2 separate regions of the Homo sapiens genome follow, and region 1 is linked to region 2. Evidence: fine-mapped expression QTL. Tissue or cell type: whole blood. Region 2 holds a variant in brackets; the other region holds the start of a gene. Each region is shown on its reference strand, or each on the opposite one.

Region 1 (13,979 bases), not on the chromosome of region 2:
ACACTTTTTGCTCTGCATTTTTGGAAGTACAAAAGGTAATGAGTTAGTTTAAAGGAAACTTTGAATTAGTTTAGCATGTAATCTATAAAAGGTATCAAAATTGGCTCACGCCTGTAATCCCAGCACTTTGGGAGGCCGAGGCGGGCAGATCACGAGGTCAGGAGTTCAAGACCAGCCTGACCAACATGGTGAAACCCCGTCTACTAAGAACACAAAAATTAGCCAGGCGTGGTGGTGCATGCCTATAATCCCAGCTACTTGGGAGGCTGAGGCAGAATTGCTTGAACCCGGCAGGCAGAGGTTGCGGTGGGCCGAGATCGCACCATTGCACTGTAGCCTGGATGACAGAGTGAGACTCCATCTCAAAAAAAAAAAAAAAAAAAAAAAAAAGGGCGTCAAAATTGTGATGCTGGAAGTGAGTCCTTTCACCTAACATACCTCATATGACTTAAATTTGATGAATGGCACTAGTGGCTTGAACTTCAAGAGAATTCATTAATACCCTATATCTAATAGTCTTAAAATACATTTAGTACAAAACCCAAATTTTTCTCTTAAACAGGTTTATTTTAGCAGCTCAGTATATTACATTCTACATATTTGTCTTTTAATGTGTTTATATTTCTGCCTGTTCTGCATAGATGGCATATTCATTAACTTTTGTAGCTGACTTTTTCATTTGCTATTTGCTGCTACCTGGCCTGAAGAGTCAGGAGGATAAAAAAAATTCATTTGGTGGAAACATGGAGCAGCACTTCAGAAGAACTTTACTTTGATGCAGACTTCCGTGTTAGGTTTTCTTCCTCTTCTTTTTCAAATCCTGAACAGACGACAGATCTTCCCTTGGGATACTGAGCACAACACTTACGCAGTTCTTGGATGACAGCCTGACACTTTGATTCCATGTAGCTGTTGGCTGAAAAACATACAGGCAGACTCTAGTCATGATCTCATAGGACTAAGGTACAGGGAGGTTTAGATCAGTGCTTCCCACCCCTTTTCACTTTCAGTACCTATGGAACTGGAAGAAAGAAGATATACCAAAGTCCACTGAATTCTTTCTAATTTAGAGACCTGTCGACAGGTTCGTTAGGGAAAGTATGATTTACAAAGTGGTTGAAAGCTATTTTAATATATAATTTCCTTTAAGGTTAATAGCATGTATGCACCTTTTTCTAGGACATTGGTTTTTAACATCATTTTTATTACTGGTCACTAATTTGATGAATTAGGAAAATGCACATACACCACACATTATTTTGCATACAGTTTAAGCTGATTGTTGGACCTCCCCTACTAAGGCTGTGCATCAGGAATTGGCAAACTGCAGCCTTAGGGTCAAATTCAGCCGGTTTTTACAGCTGGGAGCTAAAAATGGATTTTAATTTTTAAAGGGTTGTAAACACACAACACATACACAATATATACAACAAAGGCCTTTGGCCTCCAAAGCCTAAAATATTACTTGTTTGGCCTTTTTCATAAAACATTTGCAGATCCCTACTATACATAAACACTAAGTTAAGGAGGACCTGACCTAAAGACTCTAGGTCAGCTGCAGTTAATGAGTCCCCCAGTACTAAAATGGAGTACATGGTAGTTAGCTCAGGATAGGAAAGACAATTCTGATTAGAAAGGCAGTATAGCAAGGTGGGTAACAGTCCAGATTTGGAGCTAGACCAAGGGCGGGGTTGGCGGGGGGTGTTCAAATTCCCACCATACCTCTTACTAGCTATGTGACCCTAGTCAAATTACATAACTTGTGTGTCTGTTTTCCCCTTTATGAAATGGGGGTCATAGTAGCATCTACCTCATGGATGAAAGGCTTAATACGTATAAAGTCCTTATAACGGTGCTTGTCATCTTTTAGTCTTTCCAGTTCTTAATCCTCCCACACTGCCAAGGGGGTGTCACCAGCTCTTTTTAACTTATTTTTTTCCCTTAGCTATGGGTTATTTCAAACAAGGTAAGGTTTTATTTGGGAGAAGGAATTAAATGCAAAAAACTTTTTCCTTTTCCTTAAAGTTGGAGGGAAGAAGTTTGACTAAAATGGCATTATTATACATCCAGATTTTAATCTAAAAGATTTTATAAAATATTGCTAACATCAAAAAATGAAAAGTCCAAGAATGAAAGCTAAAAGTCCAAGGAGATACACAAACAAAGGATTTCTTTGGTGGTGAATCTTTGGGGGAACTCTGAACATTTTTCCTTCATACCTTTCTATATTTTCATGACCTTCCATCTCCATCTATTACTTTACTAGTGAGGAAAACTTATTAAAATTTTTTCAAATTCAGATAGCCTTATAGCTTTTTCTATTTGCTCTTCTGGCAACAGTCATTCACTGATTAGAAAACTAAAATCCTCTAACATTTGGTCAAACTTAGCAGCTGGACAAATGGACAAATCACCTCAAATATGCTTTAGTCGAGATTCACTTCTGCCTTTAAGAGTTAGTTGATGACTTTGGCAGCCTGAATTCCAATTGTTATTTCAACCGCACCTCTTCCAGATTGCTTTTAAAAAGTGAATTGTCAGCTGCAGTGAAGTATAACCAACCAATTTAAAACTAGCCTTTTAGTAAAAACAAACAACAACAACAAAAAACCCTTTTTTTCCTAGCCCTAGCCCTAGGAAGTCTGAATTGTTCTAGGTAAGTGTTTAAAGATCTCCAGGTGATGCTAATCACCTGGAGTGAAAACCCCTAGCTTTGATCACATTACTTTTTATTTTCTGCATCTTTGATGATACAATGAAGAGAATCTTCAGGATAATTACATATACGTTACATTCTTAAAAAAGAGTTAATACAGATAAAAGAATAATTGGTCTCTTATAGTTAGTTCACAGTGGAAAAATATTTTTAAAGCATTTTACAATATACTACCTTGTAAACATTTCTGTATCTCACAGGCTTGCTTCTGGCACGGATCCTTCTGCGGCATATCCAGAAAACTAAAACAAGAAAAATGATTTTTATTTTTCTTTTTTCCATAAAGACTTTAAAGCCCCTCTACGTGGAATTTTCTTCTGAGACAAGCAGTATATGCCCTTACAATTGCTGGAAAATAATTACACTAAAAATACTCTTCCCAAACATAGGATGAATCAACTGTATTTTTATAATATCCATTTCATTAGGCTTGGAAGATATAAATAGCTTTACATGGAAAAAAAACCTTGAATTCAATCAACTCTTTTTGAATACTGTAAACCAACGTTAGGCTAGAGGAGCCGACGGCGCAGCCTGGCTCTATCATTCGCAGAAGAAACCCTTGATAAATGATTAAACTCCTTGAGCTTTTTTTATTACTCATATATAAAATGGGAATCATACCTACCTCAAAGCATTGACAGGAGGATTAAATGTGATAAAGTATATAAAGTACATACAATAGTGCCTGGAAAGGACTCCAATACATGGTAGCTATTATTCCCAAGACTTTTTTTTTTAAAGTAAAACCTTACTTTTAATGTATATAAACTGTTATAACTACTTTAACTCAGGAAATTCTTTACAAGTAGTAAATGTTTTCCTAGGAATCAGCAATATTTGGTGTTATTACTTCCTGAGAAAGGTGCCAGTTAAGCAGCTAAAATGGTTTTTCTTGAAGTTCTTATAGAAACCAGCTTATTTAAAATATCTGTAATCAGAGAATGAATTCAAGAGCCCACAATTTTGATCAGCAACTTCCAGTAATTTGAAGACACGATTTCAGATAGAAAAAAAGGCCCACAAGCCTTTGTAGCTAATTTCATCAATGCATATCTCTTTTCAGAGCCCTCTAAATACTCAGCAGATCCAAATTAGGTCAGTACTGGGATGGGAAACACTGGAGCAAAACCTAGGATATTTACAGGATGGGAGAAGGAAAGGCAGGTGAATTGCTGCAGGGCAAATAAGCGACAAATAGATGTTGATGCTGCTAGGAGCTGCTCTCTTCTCTCTAAATCAGTACCAAGTCCTTGGTGATCAGGGCATCTGTTCTGTAGAAGGTGCTGACTTTTGTGGGATTCATCAGATCCCAGGTCCAGCCGATGATGTCCATTAAGGGTTCTATGGCAATTTCCAAAGGAGTCAATTTCAAGTTACGGATCCTGACTAAGTGCTTTTGTTGACTTGCTTTCTGCCTACGTAACCTCTCTCTGCAGTTTCACTTGCAGTATTCTTCATGACCCTTGCTAAACTTCTGTTTCTTGAGCAGTTTTTCAACCCACTCCCTCCCCCCAGGCCCAAGGGTGGGTGCACTGCAGTAGTGGATGAAGTGATTGCCAAATACTGAACAGAACAAAGGAGCATATCTTCGTAGAATCCCAGCACCTGGAAAAAAAAATCATTAAAATCACCACAACTGAATAGAGCCAAAACAAAGAGGGGGAGGACAGAGGAGAAATAGAAATACATACCAGGTTAGTCATCAGGCAAAAGCTTAAGCAACAGCTCCTGTACTCCCCTGACCTGTCAGAAAAAGAAAAGTTTATGGAGTACTCTGTTACGAGAGTCCCAGTACAATGGAAAATAATTAAGCAACATGTGTACCATTAAATGATGCTGTATCTGCCACAAGCGAGAGTTGTTATCCATGTAGCGCTCCTCCGGGTAGAGTTGCCACATGAGAGGTAGCTGGGAGGTAAGAAGGTGACTTGGCCTAGCTGCGTCACCTAAGGGAACCTGAATTTGCTGGACTCGTGCCCTTAGGAAACTCGTCTCCTAATGGAAAGGAATGATCAAAAATAAAACCAAAGACTTCAGAATATTGAGACTGGAATAGAAACCAAGTTACTTGAAAGCAAAATCAAAGAAATAAGCAAAATGTAAACAGTTACCTCTTCCACGACGGCCACCCACGTGCGCTGGTATTCGTCGCGGTAGATACCCTCTTGGTGAACCCAGAGGTGATCGGGTGGAGCCCCCACATCCTCTCCTGCCATTCTGGGCTTTGGGTTCCAATTCTAGCCCTGCTTTTCTCCACCTAAGCCTGCAGCACCCGCGCACAGGACACAGGTGTGACTTTTTGGGTTTGAATGAACTCACCAGTAAGCAAGGTGATCTGGTACTAGCAACCACTAACCAGAACCAAACCTCATATGTCTATTTGCACAACCTAAATAGAACCAAGGACATCTGAAGCTTTCTGCAAGACAACTAAAGTGACACTCAGGCAGAGCCTCAGGTAGTGCTGCTGACTGCAAAGCGCTCAAGAATTTGGCTAGGTGAGGAGTTCTGTGGAAATGTAGGACTAGCACTACAGGAAGCTGGGCAGTGGTCTCACACATACTGCATTCACAAGCAGTGTCTGGCAAAATGTAGTTAGCAATAGAATATGCAAAGAGCGTGCCTAAAGACACACTTATTTTGGCAGGAAGGCAGTATAACAGACACATGCATGTCATATTCCCCAGGTAAAAGCCACTTCCAAGCAGTTTCCATTTTAAAAGGTAAGATTCTGAAGGACATATATGCATGTCTTTCAGAGTTGAAATTAAAAGTTTGTTTTAAGGGCAAATGATCTATTTATCAGTTTACTAAGAAAGTTTACAAATAGCGGATGGGCATTTCTAGAAGGGGATTTTCTTGTTAGGAAAAGTAAGCTAGCTTCATGGAATTTCTGAGCTGCAAGAGACTTTGGGGATCATGCTGATTTGGAGCTGAGTGAGTGCAAATGAAAGTTATCCATCTAGGTCCTTGTTTTATTTTAATAATTCTGCAGGATGTTACAGGAGCCCATTTTTCCATAGAGGACTAGGTTTAAATTTTGACTTCCTAAGCCAGAAGACCAGAAGCACATTTGAGAGGTGTAAAGGAAGCATACCTCCCAAAGCATTTGAGTGGTAGGGCAAACTCTATAACGATCCTCTGCCCAAGCCCCAGATATCATTTCAGGACCTCACAATAACTTGATGTGCATTTTGCATGAGTCAATCTTCTAGACCTTACTCAGAGCATTATAGCGCAGTTGTACTGTATTTCTACCTTTGGCCAGAGTATAGATACGGCACTGGGGAGCTGCCCCTCAAAACAAAGACCTGCTATTCTCATTAGGTGGGAAAAGAAATGCAGCGTGGGAGGGTGGTTGTTAGAGTCCTCAAAGTGAGACTGTCGAGAGCAACCAGATGCTTCACCCATTATACCCTGAGTGCATCTGACTCTGAGCCTGGTGTAAGCTCCTGTCTTAGTTTTCATACATATGTGCTCTCTCATTTCAAACTCGTCTAAACTTTCTCTTTAACCAAATCCTGATTTCTCTCAATGGCAACACCACCATTCCTGATCCTGCAGACTCAAAACTTATGAATTATCTTGGATTTCTTCCTCTTATTCAGTTGCTACATCCTATATGTCACCAATTCCAGCAGGCACTACAACTACCACTGCAGTTGAGACCAACTTTCCCCAAATACCAGGCTCATTTCTAGCTCCATACCCTTGCTCTTGTTTTCCACTTGCCTAAAATGCCTCCCTGGGCCTCTCTGCCTATCTTAGTGCTATTATAGCAGAGTCCAGGTGCCTGCCTCCTCTATGAAAACTTTAGAAAATTCTTGCCTCTTTTGACTACTGTAGCATTTATATTTAAACAAAGTCACCTTACACATTTGCTTTGCTTATTTCACAAGTCCTGTCTTCCCTAAAGCACAGTATTGTATTCTGCTCAATAGCAGGAATGATACAGTTCTGGGCACCCCAAGTCTCAGGTACTGGTCAAGCAATGTTTCAGTGAACAGGTGTATATGTATGGTGGGTAGGGAAGGGAAACAAAGGAACGCCACAGTGGTTGTCATGATTGGCTATGTATACGTGGGTAGAGATTGATTCTCTAGGCATAAGCCTCTGGCTATATATAATTTTTTTCCAAAGCCCCCCTTTTTTCCCATTTGCAGATACAGTTGTTTTGCCTCTCTTCCTTCCCAGAGCTTTGGAAAAGAGAAATACAAATAAAAACCTGGTAAATACTAATGTCAAAATAAAATATATTAAATTCGGATTTCAAGCACAGAAGACTTAAGTGTGGCCAATAACTGTTTTAAAAAAGTGGAAACCATGTGTTAAGGGTTTCAGGACCATCTCAATTTCATAGATAGGTCCTAGCAACAACCAACATGTTGACATTTAAATTTGTTTTGAATGGAAAACAAAATTGCATTGGTTATATTGACATTAAAAGGAAATAATGCCAGTGGAATAGAGGGCAAAGAGTTTGGAGATGATGGTCTGAGTTACTGAGTCACTACAAAGAGGCCTATGAGTCACTACAAAATATTCTCAGAAGAAAGGCAGTGTGATGTGCTGCTGTGACCCAAAGGTCAACATGCTGGGCATCAGCGGGATGAGCTTGGGAACCACCTCTCAGCACAGTATCCTGGAATTGTGTGTGCTAGCATTCAGAGGGCATGCAGGCCCAGAGAAAGACAACTGCAGTGATCAAGGGACAGAGAAGTCACCATATGAGCATGAACAAAGTCCTCAGCAGAGAAATGCAAAGGCTGAGGGAGAGGGATTCAGATCAAAGCCTATACAATCACAGGTTTTATGAGTGGAAAAATGTGATTCTTAGAAAACTTGCTCCCAACATTTTCCTTGGTCAAATAAGTTTGGGAATCTTGGAGAGTCATAAAGCACATTAGTGTAGTAACTGTTCTGGCAAGTTATGCAGTAAAGAAACTTTATGTTAACATTTCCCAAATTTATTTGACTAGAGAACATTTTATTTGCACATGATACTTGTTTACAAAATTCAGGACTTCTCGAACTAAGACGAATCTTTTAAAACCTCAACATAGACTTAGGTACAAGGTGCAATACAATACATGGAATATAAACTTGTGCAACTCAACTCAAGGAATACTGCCAGCTACAAATACAAATGAATTCCAAAAATGTTTAGATAACTGCATAACTTTATCATCCACTAGAAGAGATTGTCCCCATGAGGGTCACCTTGATTTCGGGGCCAGAGAGCACACTGGCCAAGACAGACAATTTCTTAGTAAGGCATTTTGTAAATTAGGTTTTAAATGGATGACATATAAGATAGAAGGGCTTCCTTAGGTAGTAATCTAAGTAAAACTATCATTTTTCCTTTACAGAATAAATTCTTTTGTGTCTTTTTTAAAAAAGTATAGTTTGCTTTAATTGCCAGGTTGATGAACAGTTTTTAAACATTGATCAGTTGAATACACTTATTTTATTAGAAGTCAATTAATAAACTCGTCCAATTACAATGAGTGAAATTACCAAGAACACAGGCCCAGGCCTGTGTATGAGTCCTGAGTCTGTCACTTACTAGCTTTGTGACCTTGGACAAGTTAACGTCTCTCCACCTCAGTTTCCTGAGGTGTAAAATGAGAATTAAAGAACATATTAATCATGATAGTCTTTATTTAGCATTTCCTATATGTTTACATATATTGACTCATTTAATTTTCACAATCTTCATAGGGCGCTATGAGGTGGGCAGAATTATTATCATCCCCACTTAAAGGTGAGGAAAAGAAAGGCACAGAGAAGTTAGGTAACTTGCTCAAGGTCACACAGTGGGGAAGTTGTTGAGCTTGACTCCAAATGGGGCAGTTTACATGTACCAGGCATATAAATGCTTAGTATCTAGCATATAATAAGCTTGCCATAAATGTTAATAATTTTGTTCTACTCCAGTTAAATGCCTGGAGCTGTAAAAGGCAGCCATGAGCATTAGAAAAGTTAGTGAACCTCATTCTGGAATATGAGATTGACTACCGCCGATAACAAACAAAAGGTATTTTTCTTCTTGAAAGTGCCTAAAGGCACTATATCCCATCACCAAATGTTAATGTCATAATAATAAGAACAGCCGTTCCTGCTCCATGAGGACGGGGCATACTAGCCACAAACAGTAACTGAAAATAACATATGATATAAAATTGAAACAAGAGAAAATTTAGACAGGTCCAATGTAACTGCACACGAAAATTTTCCAACCTTCATCATGATCAAATTAATTATAGAAAGATGTGCCATGTGATCCTTACAGATCGTTAGGTAAAAACGGAGGCTGCTGGCGTGCACATTACAGATCGTTGCACTGGATGGGGACCCTATGTGTGGGGAGACTTGGGTTGGAACTGACTTGGGAGAAAAGAGCAAAGCATCAACACTTCAAGTAGCACCTTGGGAATGTTCCCTTTCCAGTACTGCCATACCTGCCTGGCTTCAAAACTACACAAAGTAGAAAACCAAATCAAAGACACGAACACGGACGGGCTGTGGAGGCGGCACGGCATATATTGTGCTTTGATTTAGAATCGCTTTCAAAATCCACGTGTGATTCCTAGACTTGTGAGTTGGAAGATCTGTACTTTTATCCTTGGCACGTTTGACATACCTCGAAATAAAAATTACTTTTACATATATTTTTACTGTCTGATATCATCGAGACAAGGAGACCCGAGGAAACTTGCATTCTGGATACCTAATGTGATACATCCGAACTTGAATAAAAACTGAAGTTCTCCATTTCCCCTTCCCTGTATCCAACAAATAGCTACCTAAAAGCCTTTGTAGAAAGTAGCAGCAGCCAAGCTTAAGAGTGATACTTTTTCAGATACAGTATAACACTGTTTCTGCAAAAGGTTACTCACATGAATATAATGTTTCTTGGGCTAATTAATCCGCCTTGAGAACAGCTAGGCTAAAACTTCCAGGTCTCCCACCCTGGGCCACTCAAGCCAGGATCGCGACGTGAGCCCGGGGTGAGCCGAGGGGCATCCCGGGCCGAGGTCACTCGAACCGAAGTTATGAGGCGCGGGCCGGCAACCGGAAGTGGTCCAGGGAGAGTTGTACGAGATTCGGGGGCTGTGACTTGGAAATAAAACAAAATAAAATAAAACCTTAACTGTTTTGGGACTGACTTTCAAAAGAGCGTCCCCCTGGCTCAAGAGGCCGGCGTTCGCGGAGATGTCGTCTTAAAGGGCTGTCCCCCAAGCGTGTAGGCCGCGCACGGGTCTCCTTAGCGGGCGGGCAAAATGGGCGCCGGTACTCGGGAGGCGCCTGCCCAGGCGCCCGGGCGCCGCTCACAGAGTACGTCCGCCTGCGGCCCCAGAGCGCCGCCTCCCTGCCGCCCCCGCCGCCCGGCCTGACGCCCGGACCGCGGCCGGCCACCGCCCTCCGCCCCGACGGCCACGCCTGCCCCAAACCGCGCGGGCGTTTCCCAGGTGCTGCTGGGCGGGCCCCGCCCCCGTGCCCCAAGGCCCGCCCCCGCGCGCCAGCCGCGCGCCCGCTGCCCCCTCCTCGCCCCCACAGCCCCGCCCCCACAGCCCCGCCCGCTCCCTAAGCCCCGCCCCCTAGGAACCCGCGCGCCGAAGGCCAGGCCTGGGCGGAGCGCACAGCGCTGGGCGCTGGGGAGGCTGCGCCGCAGCACCCGGTTGGTCAGGACCAAGTGGGCCCGAGGCGGACGTGAGAAGGGTCGGGCCAAGATGGCGGTGCAGGTGGTGCAGGCGGTGCAGGCGGTTCATCTCGAGTCTGACGCTTTCCTCGTTTGTCTCAACCACGCTCTGAGCACAGAGAAGGAGGAAGTAATGGGGCTGTGCATAGGGGAGGTGAGTAGGTCTGTTAGCCTGGATGGAACCCTGCTGAGCAGTCCCAGTGTGTCCCCGGGGTGGGTGCCGGCAGCTCCCAGGGCTGCGGAGGCCACAGGCATCCTCGATTTAGGTCCTTGGACACCCTTTACATAGCTCTGTCGCGGGGAGCCCCGTTTCTTCTGGCCGCCTGACACTTGTTTAGTCTCCTGCGAGCCCCCGGCGGTCTGTACAGGCCCCGGGAGCCTTGCCCTTTCTCCTGTAGCCTGGGGCTTCTCTTTAGATCTGCGCTTTTCGCCCGGTTGACCAAAACTGCAAGGCAGGTCAGAAAGACACTGGAGTATAATGAGGATGTCCGGGTATTACGACGCAGCAGCTGACCACAGTTAGAGCCCCTTGCCTCGCCTCGAGTCTTCTGTCTAGGGAGCAGAGATATCAACCAAAGCATTTGAAGGGTATCGAAGAGCCTAACAGAAGGTGCGGGGCTTGAAGGAAGCAAAAGTTTCCGCTGCATTGTGTTGAGGAGGGGCCGAAGAGGATGAGGAAATACAGTTTAGCTGTTTACAGTCTAAAGTAATTCTCCAGTCTTTCATACCATGTGCGTGAACACATGACCTAATTGTCATATAATCTGCATCCATATATGTCAAACAAACGTAATGTGATCAATAATGTTTTTTGCTTTTTCCCACTCTAGTTGAACGATGATACAAGGTAAGACTGTATTTGTTTACTCATATCTTATAATCTCTAAGTCATTGTTAACCTAAAATTATGGCGACTTTGGCAGTATTGTGTCCGGATCGTGTCTTAAATTAATTACCATTATCACTCCGGGGCTCCCTTAATGATACAACCTTGAACTTTGGTTTCTGCCTTACCTCCTATTCAGTTGAGATATGGGATAAACATCTTAATAAGCATTATCATAATTGTTGCGTTTTAGGGGTGAGACAGAGCCTCACTCTGTCGCCCAGGCTGGAGTGCAGTGGCGCGATCTCTGCTCACTGCAACCTCCGCCTCCCAGGTTCAAGCGATTCTCATACTTCAGACTCCCGAATAGCTGAGATTACAGGTGCCCGCCACCACACCCGGCTGTCTTTTTTTTTTGTACAGACGGGGTTTCACCATGTTGGCCAGGCTGGTCTCGAACTCCTGGCTCAAGCAGTCTGCCCACCTCGACCTCCCCAAGTGCTGGAATTTCAGGCGTGAGCCACCACACCTGGCCTTGCTCAGTGTATTTCATGTTCTGTCTCCCCTTAAATGCCAGTGAGATATCAGTAATTTTCTTAGTGACAGAGAGCATATACGTTTAGAGGCATTTCCCCATTGATCCATTCCTTCACGTAAATTGACAGTGACATTGCCTTTCCTCCTGATGGACCTCAGTGATCTCAGAGATCCCCAGTAGCTTCAATACTTGACGTGGTGAAACCTTTCGGTAACATTTTAATTTAAACTTCAAATCATACCATAGTATACTTCTCAAGCCCACCTCCTTAGTTCCCAGGATTCCAGGAATTTAGCTTTGTCCATTATAACTTTATACACTCAGCCACTTGTGCATGTGTCCCAGATTGCTTCTAACAGATAGAGTGCAGCTCTAGCCTCAATTCAGTTTCCCTCCTCTTCTTTGGTCTCTGCTAAGATTTCATTGCAAAAACAGTTAATCCTGTTATTTTGCTTTAATTCCTTTTTATATTCCAAACCCCACTTCCTTTTTTTTTTTCTAATTTATTCCCAGTAGGAGTGACTCCAAATTTGCATATACTGGAACTGAAATGCGCACAGTTGCTGAAAAGGTATGTGTGCTAAAATTTTGCATGATGGAAACTTGCAGTTGGGGAAAGATTTCTGTAATCCAGTGATCTCAGCCAGAGTATGCGGTTTCTGGCTGGATGAGATATTCTTTCTAGTAAAATCAGATGAAGAATCTACTCACTAGGAATGGGACCTAATTTTCTGTTCTTTGTAGCAAATTGTCTCTACTTGATCAAGATTAATAATCACTGTCAGTACCACCCTCTTGCTGCTCTCCTTGCTGTCACTGCCTGTTTTCTGGCCCTTCTCCCACTTTCCTTGATACTTTGGCATCCTTGATACTTTCACATCACTATTACCTCTTTATCTCGAATTCCAACATCTACTCATGCAGCCCTCTCTTCTTAAACAGGCAAACTGACCATAGCATCATAGTTCTTAGTCTGCCTTGACTTTTTTCCTATCTGCACTCCTACACCATCTTTTGTGGCATGCTCTAGCCTTGATGGTCTAGTGTAATGCTTCTCACCTAATCGTGGTATCGGACCAGTTAACGTTTCCCCCAGTCTGTCACAGACCGATGCTTTTGTAAAATACAAAAAAAATGAATTACTTCCCCTCCTCCCACCAAGTTATCAGGCCACACCTTCATCTACTTATTACTACTAGTTACAAACTTCTCCACCTTAATCACTTTGCATCTCTTCCCATATCAAAGAAATAAGTCCTCTTCCTATCCAAAGCTGCAGCTTCTTCAGAGACCTTGTTTATCAAATGTTCTGTCTCTTTTCTGGGTCTTCTCCCTGTCACCTGGTTCTTTTAGGATAAACATATGCTTAAATTACTCTCATTTTCAGAAAGGAAAGCTACTTCTTAATCCCGTATCTTCCTGTAGTCAGTACTCTTATATCCTTCCTTTAATAGCCAGACTTCTTAAAAGAATGGGCTACAATTACTACTCCTTCACCTTCCCCAGTCAAACCCACTGAGGTCTGGTTTCTAATTCTACCTTCGGTGGATTATTTCCTGGTGCTTATCTTCATCTTTCTCCTTGAATCTCTAAACTCTCATGAGTTTTTGTTGGTTTTGTTGTATTGCCTTTATTCCTGTTTCCCCCTTCCCACAATCCTTTGTGGACTCCTCTTCCTCCTCTGTCTATGCATTAAATATTACTCATTCCTCTTAGGCACTGAAATCTCTGACTAAAGCAAGAAAGAGAGAAAGAAACAATTCACCCTGGGCATCAGTTACTAAGATACATTCCAATCTTAATAATGTAATTTTATTATTCAAGATTTCATGCCCTCGTCTTGAGTTTTATGTCAGTTTGTACTGTCTAAATTAGATATTAAACTTTATTAGTTAAGCTGCCTTTTTAGTGTTGCATAGTGTATTTTTTATCCTTTTATTTTTAGCCTTTCTGTATACTAATATTTAAAATGTGTCTCTTGTGTCTCTTATTAGTGGTAAATACTTTTTAAAAAATCCAGTGTGATAATCTTTTTAAGTGGAGTATTCAGTTGAAAAACAAAACAAAAATAAACCACAAAAAAAGAAATATCATGTGAGCCACGAATGTGATCCATATACATAATTTTAAATTTTTTAGTAATCACAGTAAAAAGGAATAAATGAAATTAATTTGAAGGGTGTATTTTAGTTAA
Region 2 (17,145 bases):
TGGCTTGAAGGATAAGAAGAAGGCCCAGCAAAGGAGGAGAGGGAAAAGGCACTCAGGAGGGGCTGGGGCAGGCAAGGGCTCAGTGCACCGCAGGAACCTGTGAGCAGGAGGGCTGTGGATTTAGGGGAGCCACCAAGACAGGCTGTTAGAAAAACATGCTGATAGTTTGGGCCATGTATCTGTAACATGCTATCCAGATGGGAGGGGAAGCTCTTTACAGCTGCGCCACTTGGTAGCACCCCTGCCCCTTGCCCACCTCAGAAGAGGCAGGAAGAGACTAGGTGGAGGCAGGAGGGGTAGGCAGGGGAGTGGGGAGGGCACAGGGTGAGGAGACTGGGTCTCTAGTTGGATCAGCAGATTCTGACAGACCCTGAAGCAGGCGTCATGCCGTGGGGGCTGGAGCTTACCCCTGCAAGCATCAGGGAACCACACACTGGCTTTAAGTGGGAGAGACAAGGCCAGATCAAGGAGGACCAGCCCTCTGGTGGGGCGCGGGGTAGGGGCACTGGATGGAAGAGGGTGAGGCTGGAGACAGGGAGAACAGGGAGGAGGCCAGTACCCAGGGTGGGGACATTTCCCAACTGCTGGGACGGAGGGGCTGGCTGTGAACTCAGGGCCTTCTATAGGTATTTAGTCCTAGAGCTGAGCTCAGGGAGGAGGTGCTCTGGGAATGAATGAAAGAAAGAATGAAATGTCCAGGTGAGGGGGACCATGCTTCTTTCCGAGCCTTTTCCCCTGCACTCCTCAAGCACTCAACACCAAACAGAGTTGCTGGGACCTCCTCCACATCCACCCTGGGCTGGGGCTCTAGGGGGGCCCTGGAGGAGCCCATCAGCCTACCCTGCGTCTCCTGCCCTCCACCCTGCCCCCTGAGAATGGCAGGGACTGGACCATAGGCCCAGACACTTCCACAGTCCACCTCTTCTCAAAGGGCCTCAGGCAGGCCTCTAAGAGAGGCGTTTAAAGGGTCAGCTTAGTTTAGTGTGTGTGCTCCTTGTGAGGCCGGATTGGAGGTAAGGGGCTGCAAAGAGGCGTTAATTTGCCACATGTAAACGTTGTGCATACACCCAGATTCTGAGGCCCGGTCTCGGCATTTCTTGGTGTTTAGTTTTTCTAGGGCCCTTGAAATGACGGAGTAGGCTGTGTCTCCTCTTGTCTCTGAAAGGCCCTGGCCTTAAGCAAGTCACCTGTGATTCCCTTGCTTGATCTATACAAACAAAACAGATTTAGACAGCCCGTAAACACTGTTTCTTGCTCTAGGCCTTGTAGGATGGCCCCTGCCTGGACAGTCCCTCCACACCCACTTCCTGTCCCCAGCCCAGCCTTAGCCACATACTCCCAGAGCTACCTCAAGCCCCCTCCCCAAGCCATGCCCCTTTCTTCAGCACCAGATACTGCTACCCATGACCCCCACCAGGTTGTAAACTCCTCAGGGCCGGACGCATAGTAGAGGCTCAGTAAATATGACCGAGTGACTAGACAGTGCATACATGGGCCAGTCCTGTCTCTGCCATTGACTTACTATGTGCCCGTGAATAAGCCCACTCACCTCTCTGGACTTCGGGGCCCTTGTCAGGAAAATGGGACAAATGTCCCAGAGTTGCCTGCTTCCCAGGGCTGCTGTGAATCTCAGAAACATCCCGTAACTCAGAAACACTGACAATGAATGGCTGCAAAGCTGTGAGGTGTGGCACAGAGGTAAGGAATAGCCACGTTTGTGTTGGCTGGAGCTGCTGTAACAAGGGGCTGTGGTCTGAAAGTGTGCCCCCCAAAGTTCATGTGTTGAAATCCTCACCTCCAAGGCAATGGTTTAGGAGGCAGAGCCTTGGGGAGGTGATTCATGGGATGGAACCCTCATGAATGGGATTAGTGCCCTTATAAAAGGCTCCAGAAGGACCCTCGCCCCTTTCCCTGTGTGAAGTTATGAGAACACAGCCATCTGTGATGCAGCAGGTCCTCACCAGGCACTGAATCTGCAGGTTCCTTGATGACGGGCTTCCCAGCCTCCAGAATGGAGAGGAACCTCTGTTGTTTCACAGCCACCCAGCCTATGGTATTTTGTAATAGCTGCTCGAACAGCCTAAGACACAAAGGTGACCCAAACTGAGTGGCTGAAACAACAGAAATTCATCCTCTCACAGTTCTGGATGCCAGAAGCTTGGACCAAGTTGTGGGCAGGGCCACGCTCTTCCAGAAGCTGCTAGGGAGGCTCAGTCCCAGGCCTTGCTCCCTGTTCCTGGTAGCTCCTTGGCCTATGGCCACAGAACTGCAGTCCTCACATGGCATTCTCCCAAATTTCCCCTTTGTAGAGGAACACCAGTTATGTTGGATTGGACCCACCCTCCTCCAGTATGGCCTCATCTTAACTAATGATGTCTGCAGCGACCCTATTTCCAAATAAGGCCACGTTCCGGGGTCTTGGGGTTTAGGACTTCTACATATGTATTTGGGGGACATGTGTTCAGCCCACAATACCACACATGATGACACATTTCCTTTGCCCCCTGTCATCTCTCCTGTGGTCACTTACGGAGCCCTCCCGCCCCACCGCAGGCATTTGCTATGGTCAGTGTTGGGGGTGCGAGTGTAGCAGCATTTGGGTTAGGGCTAATCCAGCCCAAAATAGAAGCCAGGGAAGCCAACCTCCAGCATGTCACTGGGTCCCCAAGGAGGTCAGAGTCTCCCTTCGCTGCCCTCAGGAGGAGAAGCACTTGTGTCCTTGTCTGTCCAGGCTCCCAGAACACTGATGGGACAGCGTGCAGTGCACCCTGGGCCCTGAGCACTGCCCCCGACCCTGCCTCCCCTGCAGTGTTCCCAACTCTGTCCTGAGCCTGGAGGATTCTGAATCAGTCAAGAAAGCCGAGTCAGAAGATATCCAAGGAAGCAGCTCCTCATTGGCCCTGGAAGACTATGTGGAGAAGGAGTTATCTCTGGAGGCTGAGAAGTAGGTGACCACATCAGCTGCCAGAATGGGCGTGGCTCACAGCAGGCCACCTCGGGGCTATTTGGCCTTGGGCAAGTCACTACCCCCAGGCGTGGCCTGGGTCATGTCCAACCATCGCTGACATCTAGCCCATGTAATCAACACAATATTGGGCGGGCATGCAGGCTGCCCTGGAGCTGCTCGCAGTGGTCTGGGTGGTAGAGATGGAGGCCTTTTGTAGACTTTGCAGCAGAACCCCACAGCCCAGACCCATTAGTCTGAGAAGGGTGGAGACTGCCCCGCTGTCTCCTTGCAAGAAACTTGCTGCACCTGTTAAAGGCCACTTACTTGCTGGTGCTGGTAACCATGAAATGAATCACACATTCGGCATGGCGTGGAAATCACATATTTCTCATGAAGATAGAAAAGCAAAATTAGGAGCATGTAGAAAGGTCGCAGGTGCCACCGGGGCCCTCTGGTTGGAACAGCACCCAACAGCCTCACCTGTGCAAGGGAGAGGGCCTTGCCCCTCCTGGCCCAACCGGGCCTGGGCTCTGGGCACTGTGAAGAACAGCCCTTCCGCCTCCCGGCCCTCTATTTTGATCTTTAGGACAAGAGAGCCTGAAGTGGAGCTACATCCTCTCAGCAGGGACAGCAAGATAACTAGTTGGAAGAAGCAGGCCTCCAAGAAGTAGCGCCATCCTGGCAGCAGCCAAGTGAGCCAGGCCCCGGCCCGGGGTGCTGGGGCTTCTTGCCAGCCCAGCCCTGCCTCCCCGGTCTCCCACCCTGTCCTCCAAGCTTCTATAATAAACCAGCGGGCCTCCAGCATTGGGGTGAGGCTCTGGGGAAGGACAGACCCAGCTCATTCTGTCTTCTGTGAGGCTAGAGGCCCCCAGCAGACTTGTCCCAGGTCACGTCCTTGGAAACTCGGTTCCCCCGATGCAGAACTTCCTCTGCGGCCAGTTAAGTCAGCTGAGGCCCTCCCACACTCAAGGAAGGAAGCTACCTCCAAGAGGTAGCGCGAGGATAGGTGACCCAGTAACCCCCAGGATGCCCAGATGGGACTGAACTGGGCCTCCTATACCCTTCCTGGGTGAGGGAGGCTCAGTCTATGGTGTAGGTGGGAAAGACAGCAAGAAGAGAACAGTGAAGAGGCAGAGAGAAAGGCCAAAGGCAGGGAAGAAGAGACAAAGGGAGAAATGAGAGGAGGAGCAAGGAGAGAGAGGAAGAAAAAAGTGAGGGGGGAGGGGAGGGGGTAAGAAAGAAGATGGAGGAGGGAGAAGGAGAGAGGAAAAGTAGGAGGAATAAACAAGGAGGGAGGGGGAGGGGAACAAGTAAGGAAGGAGGGGAGGGAGGAGGGGAACAAGTAAGGAGGGAGGGGCAGGAAGAAGCAAGTGTGGAGTGAGGAGGGAGTTAAGAGGGTGATGGGGAAGAAATCACTGAGGGGGGATCTGAGGAAGATGAGAATGGTGCAGGCTGGGAGACTTAATGACAGAGTGCTCACCCCTAGGGACCCTTCAGTGATGCCCTGAAAGCCAGAGCCCTGTGGCCTCCTGGGGGCAGACATCCCCACTGAGCCCAGCCACAGTGCCATTTGGTGCATTTCGGGCTTCTTTCCTGAGCCACAGGCCTTAGAAATCCTTGCCAGCATCAAGGGGCCCAAGACAGTAGTCCCTCTGGGGTGCTAAGTTTCCCCATGTCCCTGAGGGTGCCTGTGAGGGACAGAGATAACCCCTGCTCTGGGCCCACGGCTCTGGGCTGTCTCGTCCTAACCCCTGCGCTGGGCCCACGACACTGGGCTGTCTTGTCTGGGTTCACCGGAGCCCTTTCCAGGAGCAGCTGAGGACTCCAGAAGGTCTACCTTTTTCTCCCAGCCCAGAGCAGAGCTCAGGCCTTGAGCTGCAGGCAGCATTTAGTGAGATGTTGCACTTAGAAATGCTTATGCTTCCTCTGTAATATAAGCTTTTTTAATCTGAATTTTTCAAGCTTTAATGTTTATCCTTTGTATCATTCAAAAATGTTTTTTGAATTATACACTTGTTCTTCTAGAAATGAATTTGAAATGGCTTGCGATATTCGTAAGCTTGTATCTTTGATATTTAAGGACCTTGATGTTTATCATGGGTCCCAGGGGCTCTATCCACTCTCCCCTCCTCCCCTCCTGAGCACAAGGACAGACAAGGATTGGAAGGCAAGGGAAAGAAAGTTCCACCTCTGTCCTTGCAGGCAGGCACCTTCCAGCCCCTAAGGCAAGACCTTGGTAAAGGCCGGAATGGAGACCTCGGCTCAGGCAAGGGCCTGAAACAAAGCCTCTGCCCTGCCACCCTAGACCTGCCTTGTGGGCCGTGTGCTCAGGAGTGCTTGCGTGGGTATGCCAAGCAGTCTGCATGCGCATGTCAACAGCCGCGAGCACTGTGCACACAGACCTGTCTCTGAAGGGCAGGTCCTGGCCCTGCCCACGGGGCTCACCACACTGAAAGGGGCAAAAATGAGCTGCTCGTGAGCGGGACGCCTCCCACTGGTGGAACAGGCCCAGCGAATGTCCAGGGCTGCAGAATCAAATGTACCTTAGGGAGGAGGGAGAAAAGGGGAAGCCCCTCTCCATGGAAACCCCAGGAGAGCAGGATAAGGCTTCACCCCTCAAAGATGCCCCCAACAAACCAGGCACGATGGAAAGGTGCTCGATCAACTGAGAACTGAGCCATAAACTGTTTTTGGACTCTTCAGGCTTCCTTCTGTTGTCGTTTTGGCTATAGGGAGGTCCAAGCCTCTCTAAGGAAAAAGCTGTGGCCCGATGCACATGGATGCTCTAGGGCAAACCCTGGCACATCTGCTGCTGCCTCACCCCCAGTCTTTGCAGGCAGCCCCTACCAACTACCTTCCCGTCTCTTCCATCCACGGAGTAGCTCTTTCCTCTAGCCAAGACTCAGTTTTTAGGAAGACTCCTCGGAGGAAGAGAGGGTGCAGCTAGAGCTAAAACCTACAGGGCGGGTTTTGTTAGGAGGCATTGCTGTGTGTGACCTGTGTCTGAGTAGGCGGCATCCCATTACTCACCTCCCAGGTTATCAGCCTGTCAGGGAGACATGGAATGGTCAGCAGCCCATGGCCTCTGGGAAATGGGAGCAGGGTCTCCCCTTATTACTGAGAATCCTTTCTTGTTCAGGCTGACCCAGTGGAAGGCCCAGGAGAGGGCAAGACTACCCATGAATAGACTCGGCGTCCAGGAAAACTAGGGCAAGGAGGAAACCCAGGAATCATGGTGTCTGACCCCTTGATCTGCAGGTGAACCCCCAAATTGGGGCTCAACTCATGAAAGTTTTTGGCTTTGCTTAGGAGGCAGCCCACAGTGAAAGAAAGCAAGTTTATTACAGCAACAGCTACAGCAAAATGGCTGCTCCATAGACAGAGCAGGGCTAGTTTATACCCACTCTTAATTATATGCTAAATAAGGGGTGGGATATTTGTGAACTTTCTGGAAAAGGGGCGGGGAGTTCCAGGAACCATGTAAGGTAACGTTCAGGGTGTTGCTATGGCATCATTCATAAACTATCGTGGCACTTGTGAGTGGCCTATGCAAATGTATTATAATTAGCATATAATGAGCAACAAGGGCAACTAGAGGTTGCTTTCATCACCATCATGGTCCTAGCTGGTTTGGGCCGGCTTTTTTGTTGTTCTTGTTACACTATGCTTCCATCAGCAGGGCAGTGACCAAGGCTTGGAAGACAAGTCCTGCTGATCTCCCACCTCACCCTCACTTTATAAAAAAGGAGACTGAAGCCCAGAGGAAGGATGGCGGTACAGTCAGCACACGGCAGCAGCGGGCAAGGTCTCCTCCCACCCCTCCCTGTGGAGGTGCATCCAGGACCTAGAGGAGGGAAACAAGGGCGAGGCTTCTGTCTCCAGCAACACTGCGCACTAAATGGCCTGAAAACACCATCTTGTTAGAAAACGCTAGAAATACTGGATAACATAAATTAAATACCCCTTTAATTACATATGGGAACTCACAAGGTCATAGGAAAAATCTTCAGGGGCTGAAACACAAGAGGAAGGAGGGGAAACCAGGTGGTAAGCACTTGTCTCATCAGCGTAAGTGACAAGGTGGTCTTTTCAAGGAATGGTGCTGGAACAACCAGACAGTTGTTTGGGAAAAATTAAATCAATCTTTACTTCATACCACTCACAATAATTAATTCAAAATGGATCATAGACCTGTACTTAAGAGCTAAAATTACAACAATTCTAGAGGAAAACATAAGGAAATATTTGTGATTTTAAAACAAAGATTTCCTAGGACAGTAAGAAAAAAAGAAAAGAAAAATAAAATGGACTGGACTTCACCTTAAAAACTTCTCTTCCAAAAACACTTTAAGAAAATATAACGGTGTACCACAAACTGGGAGAAAAATACAAATTTCTGGAATAAAGACCTCTTACGACTCAGGAAGAAAACCCTGTATTTTTTTTAAAGGACTAAATATTTGAACATACATTTTGCAAAAGTAGATATATAGATGGTTAAAAAAAAATGACAAGATGTCCAATGTCATCAGTCTTTAAGGAAATGCAAATTAAAACCACAAATGAGATACTACTAGAAACCTATTAGAATGGCTAAAAAAATTTTTTTTGAACTGAAAATGCCAAGTACTGGAAAGTATGTGCAGCAGCTAGAACTCCCATACATTGCTGGTGGGAGTGCAAAATGGTAAAAGTACTTTGGAAGAGCATTTGATGGTTTCTTATTAGTCACACTTCTTATAAGAGCAGTGCGAAGGCCCAGGGTGAGGAGCAGGTGGCAGACCCATTCTGTGAGGAGTGGTTGGAGGGCTTGGGCTGGCTCAGCCTGCACCCAAAGCCTGAGAGAGGCTCAGTCACTGTCCCTCACCTCTGCATGTCTGTCCCAAGGCCTGAAACTGGGAAAGTGAAATCACAGGCAGGTTTCAGCAATCTTCTGTTGAAATAAGATGGGATTTTTAGGCTGAATCCCAAAAACCATAGTCAGAAATTTCCCCAAGAACCCCTAGGTCCAAAGATGAATAGGGCCAGAGCTAGAACCAGCAGGATGTCTGTTCTGCAAGATATAAACACCCACCAAAGGCAGCCTGGTTTTCACCCACCTGGCAAGCC[G/A]ACATGAACTGCTGGCTCCTTCCCTGCCCCAGAGAAACTGTGAAGCAAGTGTGGACACCAGGAACTAAACCCTTTAAGAAAAACCTGGAAGACTAAATGTGTCTAAAACTGGTTTGGTTGCAGGGGAAAATGTGGGTGGCTGCAGCCTGAGGAGGACAGGAGATGGGTGCAGTGGAAGAGAGCTGTATGAAATCTTCCCCAGCTCTGCCCTGCCTTTCCTCAGCAGAGCCTTGGGGCGGTCTTTACCTGCCTCTTTACTGCAGCAACAGCAGCAGCCCAGGCCACTGGTGCAGATGCAGGGGTTAATACTGAAGGACAGCAAAGGCTTTGCCATTAAGGTGTTGACGAAAGCAGATGATAACTCCCAGGTGCCTTTGACCATTTAAAAGCTCCATCTTGGCCAGATGTGGTGGCTCACGCCTGTAATCCCAGTACTTTGGGAGGCCTAGGCAGGTGATTCACCTGAGGTCAGGAGTTCAAGACCAGCCTGGCCAACATGCTAAAACCCTGACTCAACTAAAAATACAAAAAACTTAGCCAGGTGTGGTGGCGGGCGCCTGTAATCCCAGCTACTCAGGAGGCTGAGGCGGGAGAATCGCTTGAACCTGGGAGGCGGAGGTTGCAGTGAGCCAAGATCGCGCCACTACACTCCAGCCTGGGCAACAAGAGTGAAACTCCATCTCAATAAATAAATAAATAAATGCTCCATCTTTTCCCCTCCAAACTACTGATTACAAGGCCGTGAGAGGCCCCCTCTGATGGTGGGTGCTGCTTCCCCCAGGGATTTTTAAGGTCATACTCTAGCCAGGGAATTTGCCTAGTGGAGTGACAATAAATCTGAGTGAGGAACAAAGGTTTTGGGGTAAAGGGGCTCATTCGTTTACCAGCTCTGACATAGATTGGGGCTTGGCTTGTCATTCTTCCCCAAAACACATAAGCAGAGCAGCTGATGAGGAACATCATACATATAAGACAAAAGCTGAAGAGCCAGTTAATAGATTAGAAGACTATACTATAGAACTCTCCCAGAATCAGGAAAGGTTAACTATGTATAAAATATAAAAACAAGCCTGGGAAACAGAGTGAGACCCTGTCTCTACAAAAAATTTAAAAATTAGCCAGGTGTGGTGGTGTGCCTGTGGTCCCAGCTACTCGGGAGGCTGAGGTGGGAGGATTGCTTAAGCCTGGGAGGTCAAGGCTGCAGTGAGCTGTAATCACACCAATGCACTCTGGCCTGGGTAACAGAGCAAAACCCACAGCTCAGATATATATAACACTGAAAGATGTGGAGAAAAAATAAAGTACCAAAACCCAGATGATAAGGGTCCTGGAGGGTAAAAAAAAATAAAAATGTAGAGAAGGAACTATTATTTGAAAAAATAATGGAGATAATATGCCATAATTATGAAAAATGAAAGACTTCAGGGTAAAATTAATCAGAGTGCCAAACAGAAGAGTTAAGGAAAAACCTACACATGGACATATTACAGTGAAATCTGAGAAAAAAAAATCTCTAAAAGATACCAGAGAGAAGCAGACCACCTACAAAGAAACAAGGGTCAAGCTGACATCAGATTTTTCATAGCAATGCTAGAAGTGAGAAGAATGTAATATCTTTAAAGAGTTATAGGCAAAGTACTCTAAACTGTAGGGGTAGGAGTAGAGATACTAAAGAGACATAGCAGTGTGAAAAAGTATTTAGCTTGTTTAGGGGAAAAGTAGACACTGATAAGCATAAGCATCAATAGGAATAAGCAGGTATAAAATTGGTCTTAATGGCACCCACCATAAGACCAAAATAGAATGTATAACTTTTTGACTGCTCGGGAATACTCTGTTTGTCCAAGGGAAACAAGTGAAGAGGAAAAAAAAAAAAAGTAAAAAAGTAATACCAAAAACAAGTCTCAATATAAGGTTAGTATAATAAATGTAAATGGGTTAAACTTGCCAATCAAAAAATAGAGACTTTCATATACAAAAACTTGTACATGAATGTTCACTGAAGCATTATTCACAATAGCCATAAAGGGGAAACAACTCAAATGTCCATCAGTTGATGAATAGATGAATAAATTATGGTATATCCGTAAAGTAGAATGTTACTCAGCAGTAAAAAGAATACAATTTTGATTCATTTTACAACATGGGTGAACCTTGAAAATATTATGCTAAGTCAAAGAAAACAGTCACAAAAGACCACATATTATATGATTCTATTTACATGAAATATACAGAATAGGCAAATTTATAAAATCAGAAACTAGAGTAGTAGTTGCCTAGGACTGGAGGGCAGGAGAAACAGGGAGTGATTTTTAATGGATATAGAATTTCTTTTGGAATTGTGAAAATATTCTAAAATTAGTGGTGATGGTTGCACAACTTTGTAAATATACTAAAAATCACTGAATTTTACATTTTAAATGGGTGAACTGTGTGGTATGTGAATTATATCTCAATAAAGCTGTTAAAATGTTTAAAATGTAGGGATTCTCAGATTAGGTTTAAAAATACAAGATCTGACTCTATGTTGTCTACTTGAGACAGTCAAAATAGAAAGACACATAAATATTGAAGATAAAGGACTAGAAATATATACCAGGCAAATATGAACCTAAAAAGCTAGGATAGCAATCCTAATATCTGACAAAATATAATTTAAACCAAAAATATAGAGGATAGAGAAAGATGTTATATAGGGGTAAGAGAAACAATAGAACAAGAATGAAAATGCACCAGGATGTATGCAGTTTCAAAATACATCAAGAAAAAAAAAAACATAAAACCAACTTAAAATGAATTTTCTTATTTTTTTTTTTAAGAGACGGGGTCTTACTATATCACCCAGGCTGGTCTTGAACTCCCGGGCTTAGGTTATCCTCCCACCTCAGCCTCCTGAGTAGGTAGGACTATAGGCACACACCACTGCATCCAGCTAATGAAGTGAATATTTAAAAATACCATTCCCAGAAATTAATAAAGCAGACAAAAAATAAGCAGAGATATCAAAGTTCTGTATAATGCTATCAGTGAGCTTGACTGCGTGTATGTGAATCTACCTAAAATATAGAGAACCCACATTCTTTTTTGACGCCTGTGGAACTTTGTAAAAGATATACCATATATTAGATCATAAAGGAAGCCTCATTCAATCCAGAGGAATTTACAGATTATATTATCCAAGTAGGATGCAATGAAGTTAGAGACAAATAACAAAAATGTCTTAACACTCTAGGTCTTTGGTTAAAATTGAAATCCTAAAGGAAATTCAGAAATATTTAGAATTGAATGATAATGAAAATGCTACAATGTCAGAATTTGTGGCACACAGCTAAAACAGTATTTGGAAGAAAATGTAGAGCTTTAAGTACATTTATTATTATTACTTGGCTATTTTTTTAGCCAAAAAAGGCTAAAAATAAGAAAGACATGCAGACGTTAATGAAATGGTGAAGATGACCAAACCCTAAAACTAGTCCTTTAAATGAATTAATAAGTGGACCCCCAGAAAGATATATAACAGCTTGGGAAAAAAAGAGAAATAAAGATCTTTTTAAAAATATTATTATGAACAATCAGACAACAATAAATGTGAAAACCTAGATGAAACCTGGGGCAAAGCCTGCCGTGTATTCCCAAATGATTTCCCTTCCTTCTGGGCACACAGCCCTGTTACACTTCCCATTCTCCCATGGATTCATCTGCAGCCAGGTGCCTAAGTTCTGGCTAATGAAATGTGGGTGGCAGTTAAGTTCACCACCTCCAGGCCCAGCCTGTAAAAGCTAACCCCGCAGCGCCCCCATGCTGTCCGCAGGGAAGAATGCTGGATACAGAAGCGCCAGTGGAGGACTCTGAGCTCTTAATGCTCCCACAAGATGGGAGAGTTCTGGCTCTCAGAGCCCTTCCCCAGCCCACGACGGACAATGTCAAGAGCGGGAAATAAACTTCATTGTGTTAAGCCACTGATATTTTTGGGTTTGATTGGTATATCAATTACCTCCCTAATGTAAAATGGATATGTTTCTTAAAAAAACACCAGTATTGTTGCAAAAAGAAATCAAAAACTGGAAAAAACCTGGAATTGTAAATAAATGGAAACGGCAGTCAGTCTTATGCGTGTGCACGTGCACACACGCACATCCCAAAACCCAGGTCCATATGGTTTTACAGGTGAGTTTAAAATAGCTCATGTGGCTCACGCCTGTAATCCCAGCACTTTGGGAGGCCGAGGCAGGTGGATCACTTGAGCTCAGGAGTTCAAGACCAGCCTGGCCAACATGGTGAAACCCTGTCTCTGCAAAATATACAGAAATTAACTGGGCATGGTAGCCTGTAGTCCCAACTACTCCAGAGGCTGAGCAGAGAGGATGGCTTGAGCCTGGGAGGCAGAGGTTGCAGTGAGCTGAGATCACACCACTGCACTCCAGCCTGGAAGACAGAGCCAGACCATGTTTCAAAAAAAAAACAAAAAACTGTTTATGTGTGTGTTTTATAAGCTGTTCCTAAAAATAGCAAATTTTATTTTATAAAGCTCTATGTAAGTTTTGTCAAAGTACAATGTAAATATAGAAAAGTAAACAGTGTTTAAGCTCCATCTGAATGAATTTGTCAAGGTAAACATACCCCTATGATATAGTTTGGATATTTGTCCCTGCCTAAATCTTATGTTGAATTGTAATCCCCAGTGTTGGAGGTGGGGACTGGTGGGAGGTGTTTGGGTCATGGTGGGGGATCCCTCATAGCTTAATCTTGTTCTCAAGACAGTGAGTTCTCGTGAGATCTGGTTTTTGTAAAGCATGGTACCTCCCCACCCACTCTCTCTTGCTCCTGCTTTCACCATGCAAAGTGCCTGGTCCCCCTTCGCCTTCTGCCATGAATAAGAGCTTCCTGAGGCCTCCCCAGAAACTGAGCAGATGCTGGCCCCATGCTTGTACAGCCTGTAGAAACATGAGCCAATTAAACCTCTTTCCTTCATAAATTACCCAGTCTCAGGTATTTCTTTATAGCAGTGCAAGAATAGACGAACACAGCACATGACTAGAATCCAGAGCAAATCATCACCTGCCTCCGCCATAGGTTAGTTTTGCCTGTTTTTACATTTTATTCAAATGGCATCACATACTGTGCACTCTTTTGTGTCTGGGTTCTTTTATATTCATTATGTTTATGAAATCCATCCTTGTTGTATGTGATTGAAGTTCATTCAATCGCATTGGTTTATAGAATTTCACTGTACAGTTATACCACAATATATTTTTCCATTCTACTGTAGATGGGCAATTGGGTGGTTTCTGAGCCTAGTGTACCTCAAAATCAGATAAGGTCAATACAAAGAAGAGAAGATGAAAATCTCATTGCTTATTTCACTGATGAATGTAGGTACAAACATTCTAAATAAAAGATTAGCTAACTGAATCCGATGGTATATTTATTTTTTTAAATAATACATTATGTCAGGTAAGGTTTATCCTAGCAATGCCAAGACAGTTCAATGTCAGAAAATAAATCAATATAATTCGCTATATTAATAGACTAAATAAGAAAAATCAAATTCTATCTCGACTGGTGAATAAAATTTATTAGGTAAAGCCTAGCAAGCTGGAAATAGAAGGTCACTTTCTTAACCTAGTGAAGTTTATATAAGAAAAACCCACAACAAATATTTTTCTTAATGGAGACACTTTATTTTATTATATTATTATTATTTATTTTTTTTTTTGAGATGGAGTTTCACTCTTGTTGCCCAGGCTGGAGTGCAATGGAGCAGTCTTGGCTCACCGCAACCTCTGCCTCCCGGGTTCAAGCAATTCTCCTGCCTCAGCCTCCCAAGTAGTTAGGATTACAGGCGCCTGCCACCATGCCCGACTAATTTTTGTATTTTTAGTAGTGACAAGGTTTCATCATGTTGGCCGGACTGGTCTCGAACTCCTCACCTCAGGTGATCCACCCGCCTCGGCCTCCCAAAGTGCTAGGATTACAGGCATGAGCTGCCGTGCCCAGCAATGGAAACACTTTAAATGTTTTAATCTTCCCTGTAAAAAGACAAGGATACTACTTCAACACCACTGTCCAAAATATATTAGAGCTCTTCAACACTCTACAGAAAGAAATTGAAACAGGTACAAGGATGTAAGAGCAAAAGATAAAATTGTCAGTATTGAAGATAATTTAATCATCTACCTAGAAAAACCAACAGAGTCAATAGACAAACTGTTAGAACTGACATAGATTCAGCAAGATGCCAGATGCAAGTGCAACCTATAAAGCTGGTTTCTCATAGTGAAAAGCAGCAGGCCAGGCTGCAGGCACAGCAACACAAGGTCTCAAAACACACAGATGATGGATAAAAAACAGTGGCATTAGGTGCCAGGAATGGACTGAGGCAGGAAAAAGACAGTGTGCCTGAGAGGATGGGGCCCCTCTGCAGAGGGCCTGGGATGTCCTCCTAGGCCACAAAGATCCAGAATAGATACGTGGCTGCAGGTTGCTGAAACCCCCAACACCCCCACCCAGAACCCTCAAATATTTACCCCTTCAATAAATATTAACAACACCTCTTTCTCCCTGCACTGCCCCCCACTCTGGCCTTGAGGCTATGGGCAAGCAACTTTGGTCTCTGGACTGCCACTTCCTTATCTATAAAATGGGATGATCCCAATAAGCAACTTCCCAGGGATATTGGGTGGGTTAAATATGATAATACAGAGAAAGGATTTAGCTCATGCTTACTAAACATAAGTGAGAATAACTATTAATAAAATGATTAAGGCGCTCCCCCTGCCTTCCGTAATGCCAGCCTGCACTCCAGCAGGGCCCACCCCACTGCGGGCTGCTTCCAGTCTGCAGCTCCCTCAAGGGTTAAGTGGCTTGGCTGCGGGCCAAGGAGCAGGAGCAGGAGCAGGAATAAAGCATCAGCCCCAGCAGCAGCATCTCCCTATCTGTGAGCAATCTCCTCTGGCCCCCAGCTCAGGCCTTGGGAAATAAAAGCCCAGCCAGCTCCTGCCAGCTGCATCATAATGACTTTCCCCTTCCAGGAAGGAGATTGGGTGGGCCTTCCCCTCCTGCCTCTTTCTCCCTTCCCTAGGTTTAGGGGCTGCTGGGGACACGTGAACTGCCCCGAAGCTGTCAGCTCACATATGAGAAAGAGAGTGGGTTGTTTCGGCTGCTGGCCCTGTGGGGTTGGAGGGAAGGACAACAGGGAGGGGTCCTGGCTCTGGGAGGTGGGGAGCAGGAGGTAGGAGGTGCCCAGTTGGTATGCCCTTGGTATTCTGCATCTCAGCGTATCCTCCCCTGGGTCTGGACAGGATGTTTCCAACTGCAGCTTGTGACCCAGTAGTGAATTGCAAAATCCATGGAGTGGGTTGTGATGCGCATTTTGAAAGAGACAGCTGGGATAGAAAATACGCCTTGCATATAATAAAGCACAGGCTTTATTTCAGTCACCCATGAGTATAGTGGTTAAAAATGCAAGCCCCAGGCCAGGTGCGGTGGCTCACACCTGTAATCCCAGCTACTTGGGAGGCTGAGGTGGGAAAATCACTTGAACCTGGGAGGCGGAGATTGCAATGAGCCAAGATCACGCCACTGCACTCCAGCCTGCACGACGGAGCAAGACTCTGCCTCAAAAAAGCAAAACAAAAAATGCAAGCCCTGGAGCCCACCTGTCCAGCCACATGACCCCAGGTGTGTTAACTCTCCAGGCCTCAGTTTCCTCATCTGCCCATGGGGGGAAAACAGCATGACATGGGTTATTGTGAGAAGTTAAGGAGTGGTTCAGGAGTGGAGCTCAGGGAACATGCAAACGCCGGGAGTGGGTTCTTTCTTTTGTCTTCACTGTGCAAAACGTATTTCTTCCTCAAGAAAGTGGTCAGGAAAGCTTGAAAGCCACTGGATTTGAGGATTGGGTACAGAACCGGTTTATGGCAAGAATTCAGGGTACAGCCTTGGGCAGGGAGGTTGTTCTTAGCAAATTAAAAGGGAGGGGCCCGAGAGGAAACGGAAAAGTGAGAGTTCCCAGAGGCTGATCTGCCTGTGCACAGCCCTCTACAGTGGACACCACCCGCTGGCTTTCCTCGCTGCTCCCTCACACAAGTATCTTTACAGGAATCCTTACTCGTTGCTGGTCATTCAGTCAGCTGTTTTTTAATGAGCAGCTACTACACACCAGGACTTGGCCGTTTGATGGTGAAATGGAAGGCAGAGCCCACCCCTCCCTGATTGTACAGGTGAGGAAATCACCATGCTTGTCTTCCACCTACATGGAGCAGGCGCCGAGCTGACCTGGCTTTGCCTCATGTGATGCCCACCTCGGTGCCTCCCATGCCCAGCAGTCCATTTTCAAATGGGAAACGGAAGCTGGGAGTGGGGAAAAGCCTTGTCCGTGACCTCTCAGCCCATCTGTGGTGGAGCAGGATCTGATCCGGGACTCCATGCCCCACAGCTGCCGGGCAGCCCTTAGCCATCCTCACTGGGCTGGTGAGCCCCGGCTGCTCTCTGTGCAACCAAAATATACACGAGCCCACCTTCCTGCCTCCGCTCTCCACTCCACCCCTCAGCCTTCCCTCTCCATCATGGTGTCCTTCTTTCTGTCCTTCGGGCATGCCGAGATCCACCCCAACCTCAGGGCCTTGGCATGGCCACTCCCACTGCCCCGAAGGCTTGTTTGCTGGATCTCCACATGGTCAGCAACTTACCATCAGTCAGTCTCAGCTCCTCAGAGGGGCCCCTGCCCTCCCTGCTAGTGTTGTCCATTTCCATCCCCCAGACTCCTGCCAGCAGGTCACCTATTTTATTTCCCTCTTGGGGCCTATTGCTACCTGGTTTTGTTCAGTTGGGCACTGTCAGTCTCTCTGATGCACATGCAAGCTTTCAGGTTCTAGTCCTGCCCTATAAAGCAGGGCAATCTTGGATAAGTCACTTTCTCTCTGTCAGCCCCAGTTTCCTCATCTGTATCATGGGGACACTAACATCTACCTTTCAGCATATTGGCGAGGATGCAATGTGACTATGACACAGTGCCCAGCACACAGTAGGTGTATATCACACAGAAGGTGGTTTAATAAAAGTGGACGTGACAAACGCCCCAATTAAAA

Evidence for each region. PIP is the estimated chance that this variant, and not a neighbour inherited with it, causes the effect.
Region 1: MTCP1 starts here. The variant in region 2 is fine-mapped to the expression of MTCP1 in whole blood (TOPMed, PIP above 0.99).

What each region holds. Positions count from the first base shown.
Region 1 is chrX:155,061,076-155,075,054 of GRCh38, forward strand. It overlaps MTCP1 (mature T cell proliferation 1), which reads right to left and starts at 10,061. Exons shown (of 5, transcript NM_001018025.4): 1 at 9,619-10,061; 2 at 4,831-4,982; 3 at 4,544-4,714; 4 at 4,411-4,462; 5 at 2,959-4,324. The coding sequence starts at 4,935. The coding sequence ends at 4,415. CMC4 (C-X9-C motif containing 4) reads right to left here and starts at 10,061. Exons shown (of 3, transcript NM_001018024.3): 1 at 9,619-10,061; 2 at 2,891-2,958; 3 at 547-916. The coding sequence starts at 2,948. The coding sequence ends at 768. It overlaps BRCC3 (BRCA1/BRCA2-containing complex subunit 3), which reads left to right and starts at 10,433. Exons shown (of 11, transcript NM_001018055.3): 1 at 10,433-10,575; 2 at 11,252-11,268; 3 at 12,302-12,356. The coding sequence starts at 10,453. RefSeq lists enhancers at 9,689-9,988, 9,973-10,694, 10,459-10,678, 10,689-10,738, 10,695-11,416 and a silencer at 10,029-10,348.
Region 2 is chr3:14,769,258-14,786,402 of GRCh38, forward strand. C3orf20 (chromosome 3 open reading frame 20) reads left to right here. Exons shown (of 17, transcript NM_032137.5): 16 at 2,810-2,944; 17 at 3,534-3,779. The coding sequence ends at 3,618. Among named protein-coding and RNA genes, the nearest start is that of LINC02011, 34 kb to the right of the region's middle. The variant G/A (reference allele first, on the strand shown) is at 8,057.